3 linked regions of the Homo sapiens genome follow. The protein of the gene in region 3 purifies or fractionates together with the protein of the main gene of each other region. This does not show direct contact. Each region holds a gene or a part of one and is shown on either strand. Other genes may lie near its edges. The genes, in order: NUMA1, CDK5RAP2 and KIF20A.

Evidence for each region.
Region 1: the proteins of KIF20A (region 3) and NUMA1 purify together in Homo sapiens (affinity purification with mass spectrometry; 2 studies listed by BioGRID and IntAct, with this or other methods). This does not show direct contact.
Region 2: the proteins of KIF20A (region 3) and CDK5RAP2 purify together in Homo sapiens (affinity purification with mass spectrometry; 2 studies listed by BioGRID and IntAct, with this or other methods). This does not show direct contact.

The regions. Positions count from the first base shown.
Region 1 is NC_000011.10:72,018,032-72,021,679, forward strand, and holds part of NUMA1 (nuclear mitotic apparatus protein 1), read right to left. Parts: intron 3,261-3,648; coding exon 3,173-3,260; intron 2,889-3,172; exon of another isoform or gene 2,295-2,888; intron 1,587-2,294; coding exon 1,463-1,586; intron 979-1,462; exon of another isoform or gene 950-978; coding exon 792-949; intron 483-791; coding exon 365-482; intron 270-364; coding exon 152-269; exon of another isoform or gene 1-151. UniProt on the Homo sapiens protein: Microtubule (MT)-binding protein that plays a role in the formation and maintenance of the spindle poles and the alignement and the segregation of chromosomes during mitotic cell division.
Region 2 is NC_000009.12:120,402,045-120,405,692, reverse strand, and holds part of CDK5RAP2 (CDK5 regulatory subunit-associated protein 2), read left to right. Parts: intron 1-1,579; coding exon 1,580-1,657; intron 1,658-2,621; coding exon 2,622-2,887; intron 2,888-3,648. UniProt on the Homo sapiens protein: Potential regulator of CDK5 activity via its interaction with CDK5R1. Negative regulator of centriole disengagement (licensing) which maintains centriole engagement and cohesion. Involved in regulation of mitotic spindle orientation.
Region 3 is NC_000005.10:138,182,055-138,185,258, reverse strand, and holds part of KIF20A (kinesin-like protein KIF20A), read right to left. Parts: intron 2,937-3,204; coding exon 2,798-2,936; intron 2,674-2,797; coding exon 2,486-2,673; intron 2,399-2,485; coding exon 2,269-2,398; intron 2,091-2,268; coding exon 1,896-2,090; intron 1,790-1,895; coding exon 1,678-1,789; intron 1,572-1,677; coding exon 1,503-1,571; intron 1,298-1,502; coding exon 1,154-1,297; intron 1,021-1,153; coding exon 855-1,020; intron 748-854; coding exon 583-747; intron 453-582; coding exon 313-452; intron 165-312; coding exon 62-164; intron 1-61. UniProt on the Homo sapiens protein: Mitotic kinesin required for chromosome passenger complex (CPC)-mediated cytokinesis. Following phosphorylation by PLK1, involved in recruitment of PLK1 to the central spindle. Interacts with guanosine triphosphate (GTP)-bound forms of RAB6A and RAB6B.

The sequences.
Region 1 (3,648 bases), on a different chromosome or scaffold from region 3:
GGGATAAGGAAAGGGGCAAAATATGCAGGTCTCTGGAGAGACTGAAGCATAAGACAGGTGCTGGGACATTCTTCTCAACCCTCTCTTGGGGAGCCTTCCAGACCACCTCAGCCCTGAGGGGCCTCCATGCACACACCACCTTAACACCCACCTTAAAGGAAAGGTCTCCATTCTCCTCCGAAAGCTGGTTGATTTTGCGATCCATCTGGCTCTTCTCTGTCTTCAGGTCCTGGCACTGCTTCAGGGTTTCATGCAGCCGCATGGTAAGGCTGCGAGGGAGGGAAGCAGTGAGAAGAGAGTATGGGTTCCTGGCTGGGTGAGGGGAGGGGCTGGGGCCTGGGAAGGAATGCAGGGAGAGCTGTACCTCTCATTCTTGTCACGCAGCTCCTCAAGCTCCTTGGGCTCCAGTGGGCTGGCCGCCTGCTTCTCATTCAGCAGGGCTAGGCGGTCAATGCGCTGCTGCATCATGGCTATCTGTGCATCTGCCCAGAGTGGAGGGAGGAGGAGAGGAGAATCAGAACTATGTGCATGAGCGGAACTATGTGCACAGAACTATGTGCACAAGGGGAAGGGAGGAGACGGCATAGGGAAGAGGAGGAATATGGTATCCAATCTAAGGGAAAGAGAAGATGGGGACAAAGACAGAACCTAGCTTCCAGGAGGTCAGCCTGACCACAGGCCCAGGGCTGAGCTCTCAGCTCCAGGGGCCAGCAGAGGGGACAACATGGGAGGCCAGGGGACATCCTTCCGGCAAGTCTATTCACACATCTGCCAGTGTGCCAGCCACCTACCCTTCTCGGTGAGGAGCTTGCGGTTCTCAGCTAGCTCCAGCTCCAGCTCATCCCTATTACTTCTCTCATCAGCAAGCTGCTTCTTCAGCCGTCTCATCTGGAACTGTGGGGTCTGCAGGATATCACCCATGGGAGAAGCTGGAGAACCTGAGAGAAAGCTGAGGAGGGAGAAGGCCCATATGCATTGGTAAGCGCCTAAGATCTGAAGCAATCAGCAACAGGCAGCAGTAAGGGAGCGGGGTCTATGGAAGTGCGCACTAGCAGCTGGGAGGCCTGTGCACCTGGGTTGTTTGCAGTGCTACCTCAAGCCTCATGACATGATCTTGGGAAAACTTTTCTTCTCACTGCCTTAATTTCTTTGTCAGAAAAAAAAAAAGTGATATATTCTCCTTGGCTCTGCAGAGATGTGCTAAGAGAAGAGACTTCATTGTAGTCTCCGAGGAAGAAGGGTATTCCATAAACAGGGAACAGCTTTTGAGGGAGGCCTTCTGCACATGACAAATCCCAACCACTTCCCCCAGTTAATACTGGGTGAGGTGAGGAGATCCCAGATCTACCGGATACTCTAAGCACTCCCAGAGGCTGGTTAACATCTTAACTCTAGAAGTTAGGAATGTGAGGAATGGATGGATGCTGAGGCCCTATCCCAGGAGGAGAGGCCCAGAACATACTTGTTCCCACTGGAAGAGGAGGCAACCTTCTGTAGCTCTAGGAAGCGAATCTCCCTCTTGGCCTGGTGGCTAGGTGGGGAGAGCTCTTCAGGGAATGTGCTAGAACAGGTAGAAGGCACAGGAGCTGGGGGTAAGAAATAGACAAAATAAATCAACAAAGGTTAGTAAGAAGGTGTAAAGATTTGCACCTTTATGCAATTTGAGAACTCGCCTTAGTGGGAGTATATCCATGGATACTTATATGTAAACTACCAAGGAAGGCACTGGGCAGAACCTGAAACCTGGTGCCTGGGTTATCCAGAGTTCCGTGTCTCTAACCAAAATGAAGTGCAGGGCTTCCATTTCTACAGAGCATCATTACTCAGAGCACAGTGGAGTGACGGTGTCCTCTGGCTCAGAAACTGCACCAAGTGCTCAAGCTTTTTCCTCGAGTCCACACTGCAGAGACGGCTTGGGGAGCCCTGAGCAGGATCTCCTTGCAGCCCCCAACAACCTTTCCTATCAGAGCCATTGGCCACCATTTGGAATTCATCCCCCCTGAAGCCTTGCACCTCCAAAATGCCCTCCTCCTCAAAACCCTTCTCTTTCCGTGGTTTCCGTGACCCCTTTTGTAGGACTCTCCTACCTCTAATCACCCATTCTTAAGTCTCCTCATCTGCTCCTCCCTCCTCTACCCACCCTCTAAGCTCCCAGAGATCTGATGGGGCCTCTTGGCTCTGCCCATAGTGCCCACGGCTTCAGTGGCCATCCAATGCTGACTTGCAAACCTATCTTCTGGTCCAGAGCCTGCTCCTGAATTCTGGACTCACATTTCTAACATCTCCACCTGAAGGTCTCATGAGGAACCTGAATACAAGGAACATCAAACTCAACGGCTAGAACTCGCCTAGACCTCCTTCTTACATTCCTATCATCCACCAGCTGACCTCTTCATCAGAAGACCAGCAGAACGATCACTCTTTCTACTGTAGTACCAGCCGAGGCCATTGATATATTCCGTACTTAGATTCCTTATCATTATTTCCTGGTTTATGTATCTGCCTTTCCACCTAGAACATGCACTACATGACGGGAAAAACATTTTTTAAAAGACTGTGGGCCGGGCGCAGTGGCTCATGCCTGTATTCCTAACACTTTGGGAGGCCGAGGCAGGTGGATCACCTGATGTCAGGAGTTCGAGACCAGCCTAATCAACATGGTGAAACCCCGTCTCTACAAAAAATACAAAAATTAGCCAGGTGTGGTGGCATGCGCCTGTAATCCCAGCTACTCGGGAGGCTAAGCAGGAGAATTGCTTGAACACGGGAAGTGGAGATTGCAGTGAGCTGAGATCGCACCACTACACTCCAGCCTGGGCGACAGAGAGAGACTCTGTCTCAAAAAAAAATAAAAATAAAAATAAAAAGACTGTATTCTCAGCTTCTAAGCCTAGAGTAATGATTGTTTAAAAAATAAAAAACAAAAGTAGGTATGATCACTTGTAAATATCCTACATAACTGCTGCCAGGCAGCAAGGAGGAGCTCCATAGGAACTGAGATGATACAACATGGCCCAGAAATCGACCTACTCCATTACACACACTTTTCCTGAGCATCAACTCTGCCTTGTGTTGGGGACAGAAACAAACCCCCACCATACTTGACAACTCAGGATCCTAGTATTCCCCATTTCAGAGATGAGGGGATTCTCAGGAGTGTGTACCTACTTACCTTTCTGTAGGAAGTTCTCTAGGTCCTCATTAAGGTTTAGCCCGTCCTCATGGTCCAGCACAAATTTAAGAATGACAGCCAACTCAGCCTGGGCCACAGGGAGAAAAAGAGCATCACTTAGGTGTTAGGCCTCTGAAGGGATGGCTGCCAGGAGCTCCACCCTGGCAGTGCCAGTCCCCGGCTCCCTCATGCCCTAGGAGCCTGCTGGATCCCATTCTCCCTCTCAGAGCTGAGGTCCTATGACCCAGCCAACAACATTCAACTAGAGATATGTTCACCCCACTTGTCCCCTTCCCTCCCACCTCCCCTCAAGATGTACCGAAGTCAGAGTTCCTGACTGACTTAACTCCTGACCACAAGTGAAGTGACTGTTAAGGAAAGTAACACAATCAGAAAGTTGCTTTTATTGTTATTGTTGTTAAGAAACAAGATCTTGCTCTGTCACCCAGGCTGGAGTACAGTGGCACAATCATAGC
Region 2 (3,648 bases), on a different chromosome or scaffold from region 3:
GGGGAACCTCATAAGTTTGGAAAGGTGCCATATTGCCACCTTCTAAATAGTCTGTACATCAGCAGTGTACAAAGGTAGTGGTTTTTGTGTGACCTCAGCATTGGGCATTACTATTTTCAACACGGGTCTGCACCTGGCCCTTTTTAAGGCTTTGAGGAGATGGGATTCAGGAACTTGTGGGGTAGGCTAGGGGAGTTTGAAGCAGGGAGAACAGTTCTGTGCTTGGGGTACCCAGGAAGGAGAGTTGGGTAGCTGAAGTGAGGAGGCCATCAAACAGCCTTTACCTGCTTTTGAAATTTGCCGAAAGCAGCCCTCATCATGCCTGGCAAGAGGCATCCAGGAGAGCATTCAGAATTCACAGTGCTGCCTCAGCAGAAAAGTTTTATAATTTCCTTGAGTCAAGATCAGAATTATAGGCAGCAGCATTTCTTCCTTTGCAAAAGACTTCTCAGGTCTGTATTTAAGTGCATCTGTTTTAAAAATTCTGTTCTAAAGGCTGATGTCTTTCACTGAGAGTGATTCCTCTTGGGGCCAGCTCTATGGAGCTGACCTCCTGGCTCCTTGGCCTTAGGAACTGTAGCACACCCCTGGGAAATGCTGGAGTGCAGTCAGCCCACCGCCCAGTGGTGCAGGAGCTCGGAAGGGGGATCCTAAGCCCTAGGCTTCCTTGCTCTGTGCCACTGACATGCTGGGTTATGCTGGACAGATCACTTTCTATCTCTGCCCCTTGGTCTCCCCTTCCATGAAATCTGAATTACAGTGTGTTTTGCCCACTGAGCTATTGAGTCCAATAGCTTTTCATATGTGAAAGTGCTTTCCAAATTATAACGTGTTGCACAGGTCATCTGTACAGCATCTATTGGTTTTGCCTCCTTACAGTGTTGCAAATACATCACCCCCCAGATCCTATTGTGGGTTACTCTCATCTCTAGCTTAGGTTAGTGTGGCAGCCTCCAGACTTACTCTTTCAGTACAAAATACAGACCTCAGCTTGACATTGCCTTGCCCAAAGCCCTTGAGTGGGCCCCTCAGTCCTCTTGGTTCTGGCCTTGCATTCTACTTTGTCCTTCCCTGCACCCGGGCCTTGGGTCTATGAACTGCTTATTTCTCCCTGAGCGATGATTCCACTCTTTGTCCCACTGTCTGCCTCTCACCTGCCCATTGTGCTGCCTGGCATTTCTTTCCCTCCTTCTTACCATAGGTCAGTCACAATCAGTCTTAAAACATAAGGTTTTAAAACGGGTATTAGCCTTTGGGAAGCCAAGTTGGGGGTAGTGCCCCTCACCTGAGCCCCAACAGCCTGTGTTTCCCTCCCTTGTCCTTGATCACACTAAAATAAAATTGCTTATTTACTTTTCTGCTGAGAGTTTTTCTAGGGAATGGACTGGGCCTGGTCACTCTGTCTCCCTGGTGTCCCACAAAGGTGGGCTTGGCAGGACAGAGGCCCAGTGAAGATTTGAAGGAATGCTGTGTGTGTATGGATAAGTGAATGTGAGGGGCTTGACTGTATTCTCTTTCAGTTCTCTCTTGAATGCTGACAACAGTGAAACTAACAGTTCTCGTGTTTTGCATTTTGTAGATGGTGACAAATATCCCATGGAAAGTGATAATTCATTTGATCTGTTTGATTCCTCCCAGGCAGTGACACCAAAATCAGGTACAAAGCTGAAGTCCAGGTAACTGTGGGAGCATTGGATGTGACAGTAAGACTTTTTAACTTGCAGAAAAGGGGGGTCCCTGGTCCCAACTCAGGAGGGTATTTGGTAAGGATTTGGGATTTCAAGTTCTCAGCATCCCCAGCTGGTGATCTTCTCCTTCAAGCCAGTTAATCCACTCCTAGGTGTTACCAAGGTTAGAACATCATTGGGTCCCTCTTGCCTTAGATTAAAATTGTGACCACCTTTGTGAGGCTTTCAAGGCCCTCCAGGATCCAGCTCCAGTGGGTCCGTCCAGCCTTATCCCTTAACCTGGTGTAGCCACACAGGGGTCACCATCCTGCAGACAGGCCCACACTTTCCTCTCACTGTGACTTTTAGACCCCCTTTGTCCCACTCTTTGCCGGTAGAAGTCCCGTTTCCTCAAGACTCATCATGAATACACATTTCTCTGTGACATGCCTTTGCTGCTGTCCTTGGTCAGAATGACTCATCATTCGTGTAATTCTTGCTACTTGCTCAATCCAGTTCAAATGCTGCTCCTTCTCAGAAGCCTTCCCTGTTCTCTCCCTCCCTGCACAGATAATTGTTTTTTCTGGCTCTGGCCCTTCATCACTCTGCTGTTGCACCTTCTGCAGTGTCTGTGTTCTGATCAGACTGTGGGCTACTGGAATGCAGGCACCAGCTTGAGTCATCCTTGTGAATCTGGGGTCTTCTGCCGAGTGGGTGGTTGATAAGTGTTGGTTGAGTTGACTTGAGCCTCTCCTACAAGATGACTCATAAGCCCAGTGTGGGGTAATATACAGAGGTCCAGGAGCGTGCCTCTTTTCCCCTCTGGGCTTGTGTTGGGTGGCATTTGGGCACGAGGGCCTCTTCTAGCCCTCCTAGCTAGCTTCAACATCATAAGCGTCTTGAACGCAGAGTGTTACCTGAAACAGATTTTACATCCTACTTCTCATTTTACAGTTTCAGAGACTCCTCCACTCTCTGGGAATGACACGGACTCCCTCTCCTGCGACAGTGGCAGTTCGGCAACTAGCACTCCGTGTGTGTCCCGCCTGGTCACTGGCCACCACCTGTGGGCCAGCAAGAATGGCCGCCATGTCCTGGGCCTGATTGAGGACTATGAGGCCCTGCTCAAACAGATCAGCCAGGGACAGAGGCTCCTTGCTGAAATGGACATTCAAACCCAAGAGGCTCCCAGCTCCACAAGTCAAGAGCTGGGAACAAAGGTAACCTGACCACAGAGCTGGGGGGCACAAGCTGCTCCCTGGGAGTGTCGGTGGAAGGGGGAGGGGAGTCAAATGGCGCAGTTGTCCTCATTAGGACCCTGAGAAGAGGGACCAGGAAGTGTGGCCTCAGAGAGCTCAGAGGTCAGGTCCAGTGTGGGGAACTATTGGTGGTGGCTGTGTTTGGTGGGGTTTGTGCCTTGTGTTCCTGCAACTGCTCCATGGGCTCTGCTGTCTTGTTCCCATGACGGCCTCTGTACATCTGGTCTCTCATCCATTCTTCTCTCCATCTGCACCCTGGTGTGTCTGTCCATTCATCTGCCCATCCACCTGGCTGTCGCCCATTATGAAGTGGAATTACTAGTTCAAAGGTTGTGAACTTTTTAGGGCTCTTGATGATAACTGTTGCTCCATTACTTTGCAAAACAATTCTATCTCTGTTCATGAACGTTTGTCTCACTACATTTTTGTTTTTGTTGAGGTTTTGTTGTTGTTGTGTTTTTTTTATTTTGAGACAGGATCTAGCTCTGTCACCCAGGCTGGAGTGCAGTGGCGCGATCATGGCTCACTGTAGCTTCGACCCCACCTCCTAGGCTCAAGCAATCCTCCTGCCTCAGCCTCCCAAGTAGCTGTGACCACAGGCGTGTGCCATCACACCTGGCTTTTAAAAAAAATTTTTTTTAGAGACAGGGTCTCACTCTGTTGCCCAGGCTGGCCTCGAACTCCTGGGCTCAAATGATCCTCCCACCTTGGCCTCCTAAAGT
Region 3 (3,204 bases):
TTCAGGCAAGCTAGTGATGGAAATCTGAGCAGCTAATTGGAGCTGGCTCAGGGCAACTCACCTGAATCTCTTCTTGGTAAAAACTTGTCAGTGACTCCTTGAGGATATTTAGTTTTTCTTCATACATTTCCTCCAATAGTTCCTTTTGGGTGTCCAAATGTTCACTGTCAGAAACAGAGGAGAAAAGAGAGGTAAGTGAAGGTTCTGAGGAGTGAACTTGGGGAACAGATCTTGAGGCACAACTCCACCTAACTCCTTACTTCCCACCCTCTGTCTCAGGTGACAGAGCAAGAGGGGTCACTCAGCTAGTACCTGCACCACTGTTCCCGCTGTTGCATCTGTTCTACCATCTCATTGCAAATTTCATCTCGGAGATGCATCTCCAGCTGTAGCTTTTCCTGTCGTTCCTTCAAAAGCAGTGTCTTCATGGCTTCCACAACTTGTAGGAGCTCCTAGGAGAGACACACATGTCAGAGGTCATCAGATGCTCATGCCCTCAGAAGGCACAAGCCCACCTGGAAGGCACCATGGAAAAATGTGTAGCTACTAAGCTGCTACACTAAAGCTTTCTTGTATTCTCACCTCTTTGCCATACATGGAGATGTCAGCTTCATTTTCAATATCATCATCAAGGCCTGTGTCTGCCTTAGCCCCTTTCTCTAAGCTGGGGGATACCTGAAGACTATGTTCCTTGATGAACGAGTGCAGGGATGGGAATCCCAGTTGCATAGGTGGGGCATGCACAAGCTAGAGGGAAAAAAAATATCTTACTTGACTCCATAAGTAGTCCCTAGGAGCTTTCTTAGAGTTACCAGTTCCAAGTGCGCACACCCATCACACCTCTAGCTTCTCACCTGGCTAGCAATGGCTGAGAACTTGGCCACATGAAGAGTTTCATCATAGGTAGATGCACAGGGATTCACATTGACAATCATGCAGGAACGGCCTCGGCCTGTGAAGAAACCTTGGAACACTCGAGTCAACTTGCTGTCACGGAAGGGAACCAGGTTCTGCTTTGACCTGGCAGAGAATCAGAGATAATAGAGCTGTGAGCAGAACACCAGCCCTTTGGGTATCCTAGCACCATCCCCAGTGGTGTCCAGGAAGTCTCTTAGCAAATTGCAGAGCCCAGGAATTATAGTCAAAAGCTCACCGGTTCTGCTGGTTTTGACGAAGGGCAGCAATACAGCGGCCCAGGGTGTGTAGAGAGGTGTTAATGTTTCCTGCTTCCTTCAACCGTTCACCACTCTTCTGATCTTTGCAGCGCTCTGAGCCAGCCAGATCACAGAGTGACAGCCTAGAATGATGCACAGGATCTGACATAAGGGCCTCACATGTTATGAGCCTTCTGGCCCTTTGTATAATTCTGGAGAGGGGACGGCCCACTAAGAATCTCTGTACCCAAAGAAGGAGAACACATAGTTCCCCTGAGGACCTCCTCCATGCTTTCCCAACTATCATTTATGGCCAAGAAGCCCAAATTTCTAAATGGATAAACTTACTCGCTGATCTTGGGGACTATATCTCCTTCCCCCTGAAGGTGTAGGATCCTGATTGAGAAGATGCTGTGACTGGAAGTTAAGAAAAACAAAAAGTCATTGCACATTTTCCATGACCAGGCAGAGGACTAATGTTTCCTGGAACACAGTGAAGAGTTTATTCTTACAATCTACTCACCTGCGGCTGGAGTTCTGGTTGAGGTGGGTGCTGGCAAAGCTCTGGTTCTTACGACCCACTTTTAGGAGCTTCCAGGCCTCCTCAGCATCTTGCACATGAATCCAGTTGAGATCTGGGGCCAAAGGAGAGGGGTGTAAGATGGGAACATCCAACTCTTTTGCCAGTCTCTCCCCAGTTGCCCTCCAGGGTTCATGCCAGCTTTCCCCATGTTCCTTTACCTTTCACATAGGGATTGCCATTTTGATCCTCGCATAGCCGCAAAGTCTGCCTCTTGCGCTGTTGGCTAGGCGGTTCTAATAGGTCATAAAGCAGTTCGTTGTAGATCTCAAAGAATGAGATCCAGATGGAGAAGCGAATGTTTGCCGGGACAGGTAGTGGGGCAGTGTCTGGCTGTGCCCATCGATGACTTGTTTCTGGAGAAGAAGCCAATGTATAGGGCATCAACCTAGAGCAGTTCACCTCTCTTTTGGCCTGCAGGGGCCTTGGAAGGCAGACCTTAGATTGCAACCTCTGGTCTGTACTCCTGGCAGCTATTAGGAACAGGGAGTGAGTTCCTACTATTTTTTGGCAGAGCCCAGTCACGGTACATACCATCCAGCTGGCTACTGCTGGTACACTGACTGATAGAAGAGAGCCCAGCAATGCCACTGTCGAAGCTGGTGCTGGTACCTATCCGACTTTCGATGTAGACACTCCTCTTCAAGGAAGTGGACAGCTCCTCCTGGAGGGGCACAGGGAGAAGGTAAGCACAAAACTTCCCCGAGATTTGTACCCCCTACCCCCACTGCCATGGATACCAATGCTTTACCTCTTGGAGGCCTCCATTTAGCAGGGACAGCTTCTTCATTTCCTCCTGTCGGATCTGCTTGCTGTCTAGCCAGATTACCTCATTGGAGAGCAAGGGCTTCAGATCAGGTGTTGGATGAAGTTGGCCTTGGAGGCTATTGAAGATCAGCGCCAGGGACCGGGGGAGAATCCCTCCATCCTTGATGGTACCTGGAGGCATATGAAAGATGGACAGCTGAGGCAAGTGCCCTTCTCCCCCTAACTCAGAGTCTCAAAAGGTAAAAACAACACCATTACCAGCCAATCAGGAATCCCGTGAAGGCTTACTACTCACCTTGAATCGTGTGGGTTTTCCCTGAGTTAGTGACTCCATATGTATAGATGAGCCAGTTCTGCCCTTTGAGTACATCCTTTACCATCTCCTTCACAGTTAGGTTGAAGAAGGATGCCTGTCCCACTTCTGGCCCAAAGATCTAGAGAGAGACCCAGTTTTTTAGAGGCCTCTCCTTCATCTCCCACTTGCCTCCTGTGCAGAGCCAGCAGATATATTCCTTCCTGAGTGGTTGGCTCTGGAGACCACTCAAGCAGCTTCTTCCTGCAATGCTGCTGGCTGTTCCCTAAACACTGAGGACTCAAGCACTCTCTGCTAGTCCATCTTTCCACCAAATCAACAAACACTTAAGGAATGCTATGCCCTAGGCCTGATGCTGCACACACAATGGGGCAATATAATGGCCCACA